Linked DNA regions of Homo sapiens: region 1 is linked to region 2. Evidence: fine-mapped expression QTL. A gene starts in region 2. The other region holds a variant in brackets. All regions are shown on one strand. Distances are between the middles of the regions.

Region 1 (8,341 bases), 76 kb before region 2:
TAGTTTAATTCGATAAACATAAGAAGATATCTATAGTAAAAACAGTAGAAAATATAATTGGATAGATGAATTCTTATGATGAAGAGACTTGAAAACAGGAAAAAGAGTTTAGATTCAACACAATAAGAAAGGGAGAAACCACTATAGGTTTTAAGATAGAGAGCCATCATCAATGCAGTGTTGGAGAAAAATCTGCAAAGAGTTTGCAAGATAGCTTAGAAGAAAAAAGTACTGAAAATGGAAGTCAGCTAAGAAGGTATTTTAATGTACAAGGATAATCTACTGAGGACCTGGGCTATAAAGGGGGCCAATGGGAAGAAAGAGGAATGATAAAACCAAGAAATGCAGATCTGGACAGGAGAAAACATAGGGCTCCTGAGGGGAAAAAAAAAAAGAGAACTGGAGGAACTTTCCAGAAGTATAGGTAATCTATGTACTTCTAGTGAGGAGGGAAAAGCAGGGCAGTTGATTTCGAGGGTCCACACAGATACTGTAAAATGGAAGAGAATCCACACTCTACCTACTTAGAAATCCATAGGCATTAATTCAACTAAGAATTAGCTAGGTTGATACTGTCAAGTATTAAGCTTCCCCTGATTCCTTCCCTGTCTCCCATGAAGTTTGACTTAAGAAAAGAAGGGTGAGAAACAGAAAGGAATGTAAGGCTTTTGTATTACCAGCTACCCCACTCTGCTGAAATCAGAGTATGGGGAGTACGCCCACAGGCACCCTGCTCCCCTCCCATCTACTAAAGTGCTCAAACCACTTAAATAATGCTAATGATGTGGCTCACTGGTCTAGGTTTTAATTCCTTTTTTTTCTTTTCTTTTCTTTTCTTTCTTTTTTTCTTTTTGAGATGGAGTCTCCCTCTGTTGCCCAGGCTGGAGTGCAGTGGCGTGATCTTGGCTCACTGAAACCTCCGCCTCCCGGGTTCAAGTGATTCTCCTGCCTCAGCCTCTCGAGTAGCTGGGACTACAGGCACGCGCCACCATGCCTTGTTAATTTTTGTATTTTTAGTAGAGATGGGGTTTCGCCATGTTGGCCAGGCTGGTCTTGAACTCCTGACCTCAAATGATCCACCCGCCTCAGCTTCCCAACGTGCTGATATTACAAGCATGTGCCGCTGCGCCTGGGCCATTTTTTTCAATGTGAGCACAGTTATTAATTTTGTGCTTCACTGAGGTATTTTTAAATATTTTAACATATGGACAACAGAGTTGAGAATCTCAAATTCACTAAATTTGAAAATAACATTTAAAATATCCCAAATTATTCAACTCACTGCCCATTCTAAAACAAATTTACTAAAAAATTAAATAACTCATAAAAAAGTATGACTTCATATTTCCAATGTGGTTACATTCCTACTCTTTTATTAATCAAATTGATTTAGCATCTAGAAGAAAAAGTACTATGCATACTGGTGGACCCTTATAAAACCCCAAGAATTCTTCAGCTAAAATAACATTCATGGTTCAAGAAAGAAAGAATCCCCTACATTGAAATAACCTGTTACTTTAAAGTCAGTGCTTACCATGATCACTAAATAGAAGTTGCTTCCACTTCTGCCTTTCTGCCTCTGAAGCTTTAAATCCCAGCACAGATTTTAATTCTTGGAGCACCCTCTTGGATTCTTCATGCTCACGCTTCTGTCTCTCTTTGTCTTCTTGAGACAAGTAATAAAAATCATCCTTTCTGAAATCACTATCAATATCTATATCATCTACATAAGCTTCTAATTCCTGAAAATGAATAGAAGAAAAAGCACTTTACTTGAAGCAAACAATTCTCTAGTAAGCATTCATTTACTTGCACTTACTTATCTCTGAGATTAAAAAAAAAGGACTTGCATTTGGCACAGGTCATTAAAGCAGAGCTAGGAAAAGAAAAAAGCAAATATATACCTATGGATAAATTGAAATCTTCAAAAACAACCTAACAGTTGATACTAAAAAGCATTGTGGATAAAAAAAGTTTAACAACTTCAGTAGTTATTTTTCTACTCTGGTAACATACCATACACTTAGTGTTACAGCCATTAGCTATATCAAAACCAATCAAAATTAGAAGGGCTGGCACTTTGGGGAGGTGGTCAGGCATGTTTGTTTTCTTGTGGTTCTTTCAGATTTCCCAGGAAGTTTGAACATTCTTCCTAGGATTAGGGAACACCCCACCTTATGGTTCTCCCTATCTCTAAGACAGAGAGGGTAGGATGCTTGCTTACCCAAGCAGTATCCTTACAGTATAGGCTCAGGTAAATGACCTGGGATTCTCTAATCGACGTACCTGCATCAGATCGGACTTAGAAGTCTGAGATAAAAGAAGCAGGCACCAGCCGGGCGCGGTGGCTCATGCCTGTAATCCCAGCACTTTGGGAGGCTGAGGCAGGCGGATCACGAGGTCAGGAGTTCAAGACCAGCCTGGCCAAGATGGTGAAACCCTGTCTCTACTAAAAACTACAAAAATTAGCCAGGCGCGGTGGCAGGCACCTGTAATCCCAGCTACTCAGGAGGCTGAGGCAGGAGAATCGCTTGAACACGGGCAACAGAGGTTGCAGTGAGCCGAGATCGCGCCCCTGCACTCCAGCCTGGGCCACAGAGTGAGACTCGGTCTCATATAAAAAAGAACCAAGCACTTTGGAAAATCTATTCTGGCAGGATGTTGCAGATATGTTTCTTGAAGTAGCACTTCTGGAGGTTAAGTTTTACTATTCAGCATTGACGAAGCAAGGGGCAATGTCTCCACCCATTAACTTAGCAATGATAGTTCCATTGCAACAGTTCTTTTGAGTGATTTGGCTGTTTACCCTAGCATCATTCAAGCCTGCTTATCTAGCTCTCTGAAATATTCTGTAAGCTACCTAAAAGTTTAAATAAAGTATCTGTCTGTTAAACTAACTAGGGTTGGTTTCCATTTGCAATTAAGAATACTGAATAGTAACTTGTTATGCAATATACACGGAAAAAAAATACTGAATAGATAATATGACCTAAGGAAAAGAGGTTTTCCTTACAATGAACAAAAGTAACCTTTGTCAATATCCAATGCGATCATTAAAAAATTGTTTTTAAAAGTGAGGTATATCATAGTACATGCAGTCAAGTGCACAGGATTTTTACATATGTACACATACCAGTAACTGCTACTCAGATCAAGATAAACACATTTCCAGCATCCCAAAAGGTAGCTTTGCCAATGTACTAATTTTCAATGTGTTTAATCACTTTTGAAAGCCACTCAGATATAGACAATTAGATATAAATAACAATCAAAAAAAAGTCTGCAGGCAGATTCAATGAATTCAGAGTTAAGCACTAAGAACTAATGATCTGATATAAATTCAATATATTATGTTGTAATTTTGAAGCTCATTAGAAACAGAAATCCAACAAGGGAAAGAACAGTAATTTTCACCCTTACCTGCTCCTCTGGGATTGGATCTTTGTCTGCAATGTGTAGAGTAGGCTGCTTCAAAGGTACTACTGTACAATGTGGGTTTTCACATGCTATTTCAGGCTTGCCTTTAAAAAACGGGAATAGATGGGAATAAAGATAAGAAACAGACCACACAGAAATGAGTGAACATCTAATTAAAAACACCCTTGGGGCCAGGTGTGGTGGCTCATGCCTGTAATCCCAGCACTTCGGGAGGCTGAGGCAGGAGGATCGCTTGAGCCCAGGAGTTCAACACCAGCCTGGAAACAAAGACTCTGTCGCTACAAAAACTGAAATAAAAATTGGCTGGGCATGGTGGTGCACACCTGTAATCCCAGCTACTTGGGAGGCTGAGGTGGAAGGATCGCTTGAGCTGGGGAGATCAAGACTACAGTGAGCAGTGATCACACCACTGCACTCCAGCCTGGGCAACAGAGCTAGATCCTGTCTCCCCCAACCAAAAAAATCCTTGGTACTAATACTTTGTCAATTTCATAGTCCAACTTGTTCTAATAACTTTGTATTTATAAAAACATAAAGATATTAAAGTGAAAAACAATAAATTAGTAGATTTACAACTTAACTTTAAGTCTTTAAACTCTTGGAGAAGAGGACCTGCCCTTCTCTCTTCACCTCTTCACAGTATC[T/C]GGTACACACCAGGTACTCTGTAAGTACTTGTTGAACAAAATATTATCATTCACAGCATAGGAACAGTCTTAAGACAGACCATCACTCTTCTTCACAAAATACAAACTTCAAACTTACCCTGAGGCTATTTTAACACTCAGAGGTTGGAATTGGAAATGAATTCACAAGGAAATATCTTTTAAAGATCACCCAAGTGAGTTTAACTTTGATTAATTCTTAAAATTTATGTTTGGTATTTAATGACAGGGTTACTTAGTCTCATATCCAGGTGGCTATCATTAATCATTATCTTTCTACTTAAAAAAAAGAAGTATGGTTTAAACTTGTTGATTTTTAATTTTCAAAAGTAACAATAGTTAAATGGTTAAAATAAAGAAGTATTTGGGAAATGTTACAAAAAATGACTGATTAGTTTGTAGGCAAGATGGCAGAACGATGAATAAATTAATAGGAAGCACTAATGAGAGACAGAATAGCACAGTGGCTAAGAGCTGTAGAGTTAGTCACACCTGGGTTACATCCCAGCTCTTGCTGCTTTCTAGTTTAAATTATAGTTAACTGGCTGGGCACAGTGGCTCACGCCTGTAATCCTAGCACTTTGGGAGGCCAAGGCAGGAGGATCATGAGGTCAGGAGTTTGAGACCAGCCTGACCAACATGGTGAAACCCCCATCTCTACTAAAAATAGAAAAATTAGCCAGGCATGGTGGTATGTACCTGTAATCCCAGCTACTCAGGAGGCTGAGGCAGAAGAATCGTTTGAACCCGGGAGATGGAGGTTGCAGTGAGCCAAGATTGCATCATTACACTCCAGCCTGGGCAACAGAGCAAGACTCTGTCTCAAAAAAAAAAAAAAAAAAAAAGGGCCAGGTACAGTGGCTCACACCTGTAATTCCAGCACTTTGGGAGGCTAAGGTGGGTGGATCACGAGGTCAAGAGTTTGAGACCAGCCTGGCTAATATGGTGAAACCCCATCTCTAATAAAAACACAAAAATTAGCTGGGTATGGTGGCATGCGCCTGTAGTCCCAGCTATTTGGGAGGCTGAGGCAGGAGAATTGCTTGAACTTGGGAGGCGGAGGTTGCAGTGAGGCGAGATCGCGCCACTGCACTCCAGCCTGGGCGACAGAGTGCGACTTTGTCTCAAAAAAAAAAAAAAAAAATTACAGTTATCTGTAGAACAGTGGTGAAAATAATAGTACTATCTTGTAAGATTAAAAAAGAATACATGAAAAGTGCCTGCTACAGATTACATGCTCAAAAACTGCCATTATTGCCTAATTAGCAGAACACAGATTTCATTACATCAATGGTGACACCATATATCGAGTTCTTTGAATGAAAAGAAAAAAAACCAAATAAATCCATAAGACTATTATTAATAGCAATAAACAGGTACATTAAACAGTGTGCTGGCAATCCAGCTCTAAACAAAACAAAACACCCAATTTGCAGCACTTCCTGATTTCCAGTTCCCATGGTGTAAATGCACCCACTGTGACCAATTTTAAGCTACCAATGATGTTAAACTGACTCACAAATTTCTGAATATTTAACAATCTTTGGAGAGCTAGCTCCAGCATGCAATCCATTTAACAAAAATCTAGCAAGAGGCCGGATGTGGTGGCTCAAGCCTGTAATCTCAGCACTTTGGGAGGCTGATATGGGCTGATCACTTGAGGTTAGGAGTTGGAGACCAGCCTGGCCAACATGACGAAAACCCATCTCTACCAAAAAACACAAAAACTAGCTGGGCATGGTGGTGCATGGCTGTAGTTCCAGCTATTCGAGAGGCTGAGGCAGGAGGATCATTTGAACCTGGGACGCACAGCTTGCAGTGAGCTGAAATTGCGCCAATGCACTCCACACTCCAGCCTGCACAACACAGTGAGACTCTGTCTCAAAAACAAACAAACACAAAAAGCCTAAAAAAATTTTAAAAACCCACCAGATTTTTAATTACATGCTTGCAGTAATAGCTTTTACAAACAGCACAGAAGGTTATAAAGTGAAAAAAGCTCCCTGAAGACCTTATCCCTCAATTCTACTGTCTGAAAGCAGGGGCTTGCCAAATCTGCCCCACTGCCTGTTCTTGTAAATACATTTTTCCTAGAACACAGCCACACTCATTTAAGTATAGTCTATGGGTGCTTTCACATTACAACAGCAGAGTAAAGTAGTTGTAACAGACACCATATGGCCTGCAAGGCAGAAAATCTTTAGAGGAAAAAAATTGCAGACCTTTATCCCAGAGCAATGCTTCTCAAATTTCTCACACTTTAACGTGGATGCAACTACCAGATCTTATTAAAATACAGGTGGATTTAAAGTCAGGGGTGCATTTGTAACAAGCTCTCATGTGATGCTTATATGCTAGTCTGGGGACCACTCTGAATAACAAGGCCCTAGAGGTAATAAATATGAAGCGTTTTAAAATAATGTGACACACACACATACACATGCGCACACACATATATTTTTGAGACAGGGTCTCACTGTGTCACCAAGGATGGAGTGCAGTTGTGCAATCATGGCTCACTGAAGCCTCGACCTCCTGGGCTCAAACAATCTTTCCACCTCAGCCTCCCAAGTAACTTTTTGTTTTTTTTGGTAGAGATGGGGTTTTGCCATATTGCCCAAGCTGGTCTCAAACTACTGGTTTCAAGTGATCCTCCCTCCTTGGGCTCCCAAAGTGCTGAGATTATAGGCATGAGCCACCGCACCTGGCCTGTGATATTTTTAACAATGGGAAACTTTATTAACTGGAGATTCTTTTCTATGGTAATCCTCGAGTAATGCCAAAGTTATAACCTATTCTCAATGATTTCCTGAGCTTACCACAATATATATGTAGATATATATGTGTATATATATGTATATGTGTATACATACATATTTATATAAATTCTATATAAAATATGGAATGATTCATGAATTTGTACATCATCCTTACACAAAGGACATGTTAATTTTCTCTGTATCATTCTAATTTCAATACATGTGCCGCCAAAGCCAAGTACCCTAATCTTGGTTTCTAAATGCCATTGCCATTAAAAGATTTTACAAGCCATTCCTCCCTCCATCTCCAATTCCTTGCAACTACTGATCTGTTTTCTGTTCCTTTGCCAACTTAAGAGTACCTCATAAGTGGAATAACATAGTATGTAGTGGTTTGAATGTGATGTCTTTCACTTGGCATAATGTATTGAGATTCATTCATCGTGTTGTATGCATTGGTAGTTCACTTTTTTTGTTGCCGAGTAGTATTTCACTGTATGGATGGATGTAACAGCTTAGTCACCTCCCAAAGCCTAGCTGCTTCTAGTTTTAGTTTATAAACAAAATATTTATGTATAGGCTTTTGTGTGAACACTAAGTTTTTATATTTCTTGGTTAAATACGTAGGAATGATACTACTGGGTCATATGGTATATGCATTCATAGTGGTTAAAATTTTGATGAAGAAAGCATATTTATAAAACCTCAGAGTATTTCTTTACAAAATATTTATCATGAAAGACTTTAAGGAAAAGGAGAATAAAGAGCATGACAACTGAACACCATGCACAATCTAGGTCTAGACATATAAAAAATATTGGGACAATCAGGGAAATTTGAATGGGTTCTGTGGATAAAATGACAATATCATGGTTGGTGTTCATTTTCTGATTTTGATGGTATACTGTGGGTACACAGGAGAATGTTCCTGTTTTACAAAAATGCATACAGAAATATTTAGGGGTAATGGGGCTTCAAGTCTACAACTTACTCTCAAATGGCTCAGAGTAACACCACCATCAAAAGAATTACACACACATACAGATACATACATAGATAAGGCAATTGTGACAGAATGTCAACAACTAGGGAATATTGATGAAGGAGACTTTCAACTATTGCAACTTTTCTGTAAGTTTGAAATGATTTCAAAATAAGACCTTTTTAAAAAAAGATATGGCTAACTAAAGTACCTGCTTCTTAAAATATTCAAATGAACATTTTTTAAATTTAAACCTGTGTAGTCATGGCCACTGTGAATTTTTTAGTGAAAAAAGTTTGTGAACTATTTGTGTCTTAATCCATATCATTATTATCTATAAGCAAAAGCCACACATACAGAAAATAATTAGAAAATGGCTTATCTTAATTACCTACCCAATGAGGTGGAGAAAGTTTTCACAGTAATGGTTAACAATAGTGGATAAGCGATAGACTAAGATTCAACATCTCATAGTGTGCTAAAGGAGGGATGAATGGGAT
Region 2 (8,341 bases):
ATTGAAAGACACGATTAAAAGAGTGCAGAGGCCACATATAGCCCAAGGTAAGATATATGAGGTATATACAGTTGTCTCTTTATTCATGGGGAATTGGTCACAGGACTAGGGCAAATACCCAGTCCATGGATGCTCAAGTCCCTTATATAAAATGGCATAGTATTTGCATATAACATACACACAGTCTCCCACATATTTTAAATCATCTCTAGATTATTTGTAATACCTAATACAATGTGAACACTATGTAAATAGTTGTTATCCTGTATAGTTTTTTTATTTGTATTATTTTTTGAATATTTTTGAGTATTTATTTATTTATTTAGAGATATGGTCTCACTCTGTCACCCAGGCTGGAATTGTAGCTCACTGCAGCCTCAAATTCCTGGGCTCAAGCAATCTTCTGCCTCAGGCTGTGGAGTAGCTGGCATTACAGACATGCATCACCACACCTGGTTAATTTTTTTCTTTTTTTTTTTTAATATGCAGGGTTTTGTTAATGTTGACCAGGCTGGTCTTAAACTCCTGGCTTCAAGCAATATTCCTACCTTAGCCTCCCAAAGTGCTGGGATTACAGGCATGAGCCACCTCACTGGGCCAGAGTATTTCCTTTATTTTTTTTTTTTGAGATGGAATCTTACTCTGTCACCCAGAGCAACCTCCGCCTCCTGGGTTCAAGCGATTCTCATGCCTCAGCCTCTGGAGTAGCTGGGACTACAGGTGCATGCCACCATGCCCAGCTAGTTTTTGTATTTTTTAGTAGAGACTGGGTTTCGCCATGTTGGCCAGGCTGGTCTCAAACTCCTAGCCTCAAGTGATCTGCCTGGCTTAGCTTTCCAAAGTGCTAGGATTATAGGCGTGAGCCACGGTTGGTCCAATCTGCAGATGTGGAACTCTCAGCTAAGGAGGGCCAACTGCATCTCTAACAAAGGACTTGTATCCAGTGTATGTAAATAATTCCTTCAAATCAGCAAGAAAAAGAAACAACCCAATAGAAAAATATGCAAGAAATTTGACGTGGCTTCACAAAATGGATATACAATTGGCTAATAAACACATTAAAAATCTTAACATCTTTATCAAGAAAATACAAATTAAAACCACAAGGAGATACCAGGACATAGCCCCTAGAATCATAAAAAGAAAAACACTAAAATTAGCAAGGGTTGATGAGGATGTGGGGCAATGGGACCTCTCATACATTCCTGGCTGGAGAATAAACTGGTACAACCACTTTGGAATAAAGTTTGGCAATATCTACAGAAATATCTAGGTATTTGCTATGACCCAGCAATTCCATTCCTACATATATATCCACCAGAAATATGTTTAACCAAACACATACAAAAAGGTTCACAGTAGCACTAGTTTAAACCTGGGAACTACTCAATGACCATTAATAGAAGAATGAATTTAAAAATGATCATATATTCACATGGAATACTATGCCAAAATAAAAATTCTCATGTTAACAATATGGACGAATCTCACAAATAAAGCCAGAGAGGAAAAAAAAAAGTCAGAAATAAGAGAGTATATAAATGGAAATGCACAGTGTCTAAACAATAAAAATAGACAAAATTAATCTAGGTTATTATGTTTAAATAGTGATCATTTTGGGGTAGGGAGTAGTGATGGAAAGGACCAGGAGGGAGCTTCTGGTGTGCTGGTGATGTTGTTTCTTTTTTCATTTTTTATTTTTTTGGGGCAGAGTCTGGCTCTGTCATCCAGGCTGGAGTACAGCGGTGCGATCATGGCTCACTGCAGCCTTGACCTACCCAGGCTCAAGTGATTCTCCCACCTCAGCCTCCCGAGTAGCTGGGACTATAGGCATGTGCCACCACGCCCAAATAATTTTTGTCTTTTTTGTAGAGATAGGGTTTCACCATGTTGTCCAGGCTAATCTCAAACTCCTGGGTTCAAGGGATCCATCTGCCTCAGCCTCCCAAAGTGCTGAGATTACAGGTGTGAGCCACCATGCCCCATCTGTCCCGTTTCTTGATCTGGGTGCTGGTTACATGGGTGTGCTCAACATGTGAAAATATAACCATCCACACACTTGTGATCTGTGCCCTGTCCTTATGTAAATTATACTGCAATAAAAATTGTGTATATCAAAGAGCAAACAAACAGCAAACTGGAAATTTTTCTGCAAGTATGACAAAGGCTTAGTAATATATGAAGAACTCACGCAAGTCAATTTTTTTAAAGCTAGCATCTAATAAGAAAATGAGCAACAAATATGAAGAGAAATGTTCAAAGAAATAAAAATAGCTAATAAATGTATAAATGCATAAAATGTAAATTAAAACAATGGAATGTTATTTTTGCCTATCAAATTAGCAAAGATTAAAGGAAACTGTTAAGGCTGTTGTTGAGGATTTGGTGAAACCAATACTCTCTTATTCTTAATGGAAACCGGAATTGGTATAACCTTTCTGCGTAAGTCTTAAATGTTCATATTCTTTCACCCACTAGTTCTACTTCTAAAAATTATTCTGAGGAAAATCAGAGTTGTAGTTAAAAATAGGCTTATATCACTGTTGATTACAATGGTATTTTTTTAAAAAAAGGTTATATTATGATACACGTGAGGGGATATTATAATATTAATGTTTTCAGAGAATGATGAATGGGAAAAGATTCACGATAAAGTCAAGTGAAAAATATATACAAAATTCTACGTGGTATACCTTTTGTTTTAAAAAATATCACACACACATTGTGTCTTAATATAGAGGCTAAAAAATTACACACACATAAACACACATTTACATAGAAATAAAGTCTATAAGAACACATACCGTACTGTTAATAGTTACCATCTTTGGGTGGTGGGATAATGGATGATTTTAACTTGGGGGCTTATTTTCTACAATAAAATGTTCCTTGAGCATATATTACTATTATATTCAGAAATCAAAAATAATGGGTAAAAAAAATACACCCATCAGTTACCCTTACTCTAGAAAATATTTCTCTCTCCTTCAGCTACCACATTCAATCTATAAACATTGCCTCGATTTTAACTTACAAGTGTCTGTCCAAGCCATTATTCCATTACGTCTCTCATTTCATCTCAGGCCCTTGTCTTCCCTAATGAACGCCTCATATCTAGACTCTTCACTTCGGTAAAATGGCCACATTTTCCACTGCTTCTTCATTGCAGCCACATCAAGCCACTTTACATAGCCACCCTCCACACCCCGCCCCCTAAAAATGCACACCAGGTACTTTCACACTTCCCAAGCTTGGCATAATCAGTTCTCTTTCCCTGTAATACATTTTCTCCTGCCGGTTTTTCTAATCCAATTCATAGTTAAAGATTCACCTCGGATATCGCGTACTGGGTGTAGCCTCTGGGAGGCCGCAAGAACAGAAATTAATCCTTCAATGACAGTTTGTACATATTTCAACATTTAGCATTCTGTCCTGTCTGTGCCTCGCTCTCTCGCTGTATGGCATGGGCCACTTCATTTTTAAATTTTCTTAAAATCTAGTTGGATAAATGAAAGTAAAGCGTATACATGCAATACACATACGTACAGGGGTGCGAGTTTTGACCTGTGTCTGATGGAAAAAAATGGCATCAAAAACACTCGCCCGATTTTTTTCATTCAAGATGGCAGAGAACGTCTTAAAATAGTCCCACACAAAAGCACTCACATCTAGAGCCCCGAGTCAGAAGAACTGGCTACACCTAGCGCAACAGCAAAGGACAAAAGAATCGAATCTAGATGCTGAGATGCCCTGGCCCTAACTACCCACAGTAGGTCCCACAAATAGACTTTAAACCGTGTTAGAAAACGGGCACCTGCTGCCTTCATTCCGAGGGCCACGCCTTGACGGTGAACAGTGACCTGAAGCACTCTGGATACTGACCCAAAAAAATCGCGGATGGAAAAGGAGGAGGCTAAGTTGTGACTATCTAAAAGGCACGATTCGGCCCCGCCCCAGCCGGGCGCAGTCCCCCCCGCCGCACATCCATTCCCAGGAAGGAAGAGACACCGCTCCAGCCCAGAGCCTGGCAACCGGGCACCGTCTGGGAATTCTGGGCGGGCCCGAGATAGAGGCCGGCCACGGCCAGGGCGCCTCTGGCTACACCTGTCAGGCGACGACGGACTCTAGGCCCTGAAATCGCTGGGGTTCGGTGGTCGAGGCCAGCTGGAGCGCGTCACCCGATCCCTCGCCCCGGGAACGCCTTGCTTCCTCGATTTCCGTCTCGTCCTTCTCAAACAAAGGCAATCCACACCCACCGCCATTTTCCTCTTACCTCAAAAACCACCTCTTCGTCAAACTCCGGTGTCATCCTTCTCCGCCATGCCACCCGCCTCAGCACGATGGGAAATGAAGGCGGGAGTACAGGCGGCACGGAGCTCCAGCTCCTGCCCGTCCCGTGGGTCCAGAAAACTACAATTCCCAATATGCCTCGCCGCTCACGCCCCCTTTTCGAGCCCGCTTATTGGAGAAGAGAGTGAGCGTGTAAGCGAGAGAGGCGGGAGCGAGCTGAAGCTCGAGCCCTCCGATTGGAGGAGGCTAGGGCTTTTGTCTGCCTTTTACGGCCGCGACTAGCAGGGGGCGCCCGGAGCACTGCTGATTTTTGGAGCCCGAGAAGGGCACGCGCCAGCGGAGCCGAAGAGAGCACTGCTCGTGCCCGCGCCTGGCTGTCAGCCTGCCGCTCTGCGGGGCGGTGCTAGTGCTCGCCCGCCCGACCCCGGCGGCTCGCGCCCGGGAGCGCCGCAGGGTCGCTAGAGTCGGCCGCGTCCTTTGTGTGGCGCTCAGGCTGCGCCGCGGGGCGGCGGGACGGAATGTGGGCGCTGCGGGGGCTTTTCTCTCCTACCCGAACTGTGGGAACAATGGACTGAAAGGGGAAGATGGATTGAGGGGCCGAGCGGGGAAGCGAGCTGCACCGGGGAATCATGACTTCTGCAGCCGGTAAGTGACGGCGCTCGCGCTGCCGCGGGAAAGTTTGTGGCGAGCGCTGCTAGGCTTGGGCTCGCGAGCAACTTTCTTCGCCGGGGTGGGCGAGTTGTGTGCCCCGTACCTTTGCCGAGCACCTCGGCAAGCGCGGAGCTAATGGGATTCGCTGCCGGCTTTCTCGTCTTTTCCTGCCCAGAGGGGCTGTTTGGAAACCCGGGATTTCTCGGGATCTCCCTTCCAAGGGGGACTGTGCTGGGGGCTCTGCACCAGGTGAAATGCGATGTGTGAAGGGCGTTCGCTCATCTCTCCAGCAGTGCGAGGACTTCGCCTTTGCATGTGAAAATAGTGTAGATTCCCAAGTTAATAGATCAGTTATTATAGGTAAAGGCAGTGTTCTCAGCGTGTTCAATTTGGCCACTAAGTGAGTCGCTTTCAACCTTGTATCTGCTGGTAAACCTTTTACCCATTTTAAAGAGGCGTAGACATTGTCATGTCCTGGTGGTTTTACCTCTGTTACCTGAGAAGCAGAGGAGTTGAGATTGTTGAGGTTTTTTTTTTTTTTTTTTTTTTGCTTGTCTGCACCCAATTACAATTATTTTGTTTGTTTCTACCTGATTAGGGTAAACAAAGCTTTATTTTCTGTCTGCCTCCCATAGTTCTTTCCCCTTCATCCAAATGACAAAGCCTCTATCTTTGTGTGGATTTTCAGCAATTCTAGACGTTGTGTTTCTGAACATTCTTAAGGAACAATTTCTGTTTTACAAAATAATTACCAAAGTGGTGTTACGTTCACTTCGTAAGTACATAGGTTAATTTTTAAACCAGAACTTATGTATTAAGTAGAGTGTTATGGGTTATTTTACGTTTTTGTCCACGTTGAAACTTTCATTAGAAATTTTATAGTGAAATAGTTTAAAGCTTCTTCTCAAGGTTACTTCCAGAATCAGCACTTAAGTATCAGATTAAATTTTCATTGCTTTTCTTGGCATTTGTTTAAAATTCTTGCAACTTGAAACTGTCCAACAGCACTCAAATGTTCTGATTTGTATTATTTCTAAAGCCTAGATATATTGTAGTGTTGCATTGCTCCCTGTGATCAGATTACAACAAACGAAACAAGAAGTTAGCCAATAGGAAAAGAAAGCAAGAAGTGGGTGTTGTGTGGGTCTTTCCTTTTTGATGTTATATGCACTTATATGAGATATCTTTATAAACTCTCTTTTCTTTGCCAAAGGGAGGCTTTATACTTACATAAGGTAAATTATTTTCATCCTACATTTCTGTGCCTTACCTTCGTTCAAGAAATTGATTTAAATTAAAAGTGGTTGGAAATTTTAAAATCCTTCCAGCCAGTTTTAGCTCTTTCCTTTTTGGAGGTGTCAAATGTATTTAAAATAACCGTGTCTTATATGTATCAGTTTTCAATTCCAGTCTTAACAGTTTATAAGGAACAGGCACAGAAGCATGTAATTTCACATTTATGTAAACCCAATTTCTAGGGCCCAGACTGGAAGTTCATGATTCTTGCATTTGAATTATCCTAAAATAATGCAAGCTATTTTTGTATTTTATCAACTTTACAATTAAAGAAATCCACAGAAATTTTTGTGGTGTTTAAAGTGGGACACTTCCTGTGTCTAGCCGAGTTGGTTGGTTTTTAGCATTGCTGGCTGAGAAGCATCAACTACTTTTTTGCTCACCCATCTGTTGGATTTATCATAATTCTTTCTGGTGTCTAGATGGGGAATATGGAAGAGAACTGGGGTTTTATTTCTACCCATTCTTATATGTATACATAGTTCTTACAAGCTGATTATGGTGCTTTTTGGGAACAATAGTCAAATTCATTGAAACGTTTAGGAAAGTTACTTGAAGTTAAGGGAGGGGATTTTTGCTTTTGAATCTAATCTGTGGTATTTGGAAGGGTTGGTTTAATTTAAGAAAATAAAAGGAATGTTGTAGAACATCTAGGTTATATGTATCCAGCAGAAAAGCTTGCTTTGTTTTTCTACATCTATAAAATAATCTGCCCTTAGTGGAGATTTCAGAATTATTTTAAGCTGTATATGAAAAAGGAGAGGCTGGGCGCAGTGGCTCAAGCCTGTAATTCCATCACTTTGGGAGGCCAAGGCGGGTGGATCACTTGAGGTCAGGAGTTTGAGACCAGCCTGGCCAACATGGCAAAACCCTGTCTCTACTAAAAATACAAAAATTAGCCAGGTGTGGTGGGGTGCGCCTGTAGTCCCAGCTATTCGGGAGGCTGATATGAAAATTGCTTGAGCCAGCGAGGCGGAGGTTGTGGTGAGCCGAGATCGAGCCACTGCACTCTAGCCTGGGTGACAGAGCAAGACTCCATCTCAAAAAAAAAAAAAAAAAAAGAAAAAAGGAGAGAGAATTATAGGTATATATAGGTATATATTTTGTGTCCTTTTGAACATGTACAGGTCACTGTCTTCATTGTCTGTGCTTTGCGTTTTGGCTGGTCCAGTAGCCAGAGAGTGTACACGTGAACCACAGCCATCTGTGTGTAACAGATGACGAGTATGTTTGTAATAGTTAGTAAAATGGTACTAGTGCTTTACTTTCTTACCTTATATTTCCCTGGAGCCAAACAGCTGTGTAAATAAAAGATTTGCTGCTTTGCTCTAAGAAGCTTTGGGTCTGACTGTTGATGCAGTATTAAGATCCAAAGGTGCTAGATTTATTGCCAAATGTCATGCACTTATTTCACATTGGAGTAGACCATAATATAATGGCTTATTATTTTTTGAGTTGTGTTTCTTCCAAAATAGAGCCATGAAAAAAAAATAATGAAGGATTTTGGATATTGCTCTACCAGTGACTTAGTTGAACACTTGTTCCTATTAATAATTAAGGAATTTTTCAATAATCGTATTGAAATTGATTCCTGCTAACTTTTCAAAATATTATTCTACATTAAAATGGATGTACATTTTTGAATGTGATTATTTTTAAAGAAGAAATTTTCTGTTATGGAGACATATTAAAGAGTATGTGTATGTGGCAGCTGTGATTATTCCCAGGCCCTGTTGTTAGCACTGGGATACATCAGTGAATGAGACAAAGTGCCTGCCCTTCTGGAGCTTGTGTCTTATGCTGAACACAGACAAAGGTGAACTGAAAAAACATCAACGCAGGAGACAGAGGCCACAGTACATGAGGTTCTTCTGAAATGAGTGTCTCAGAAGTTATCATCTCAGATTCCTATGGGCTTTAGAGGCCTGTTCAACTCCCCCATTTATAAGGAAGGAAAGTGAGGCAGCCAGGTCTGTACAAGGCCCACAATTAGGTTAGCCAGCTCCCTGAGTTATGTCTGTGACTTCCTTCAATACACAGTTAACTAACAATGGCAAGCCCAAGTTCACAGTTATTAATTGAATTCAGTGAGTATGCGTTGAGG

Evidence for each region.
Region 1: its variant is fine-mapped to the expression of VEZT in whole blood (TOPMed, PIP above 0.99). The same link has a PIP of 0.9 or more in CD4 T cells, Th1/17 cells, blood mononuclear cells, esophagus muscle, follicular helper T cells and liver.

What each region holds. Positions count from the first base shown.
Region 1 is chr12:95,289,452-95,297,792 of GRCh38, reverse strand. It overlaps VEZT (vezatin, adherens junctions transmembrane protein), which reads right to left. Exons shown (of 12, transcript NM_017599.4): 10 at 3,421-3,521; 11 at 1,535-1,742. It also overlaps the pseudogene RNU6-808P. Among named protein-coding and RNA genes, the nearest start is that of MIR331, 15 kb to the left of the region's middle. The variant T/C (reference allele first, on the strand shown) is at 4,083.
Region 2 is chr12:95,213,819-95,222,159 of GRCh38, reverse strand. VEZT (vezatin, adherens junctions transmembrane protein) reads right to left here and starts at 4,353. Exons shown (of 12, transcript NM_017599.4): 1 at 4,274-4,353. The coding sequence starts at 4,309. It overlaps FGD6 (FYVE, RhoGEF and PH domain containing 6), which reads left to right and starts at 4,693. Exons shown (of 21, transcript NM_018351.4): 1 at 4,693-4,935. The coding sequence starts at 4,920. RefSeq lists enhancers at 3,485-3,534, 4,135-4,374, 3,839-4,434, 4,435-5,029, 8,111-8,190 and a silencer at 4,605-4,834.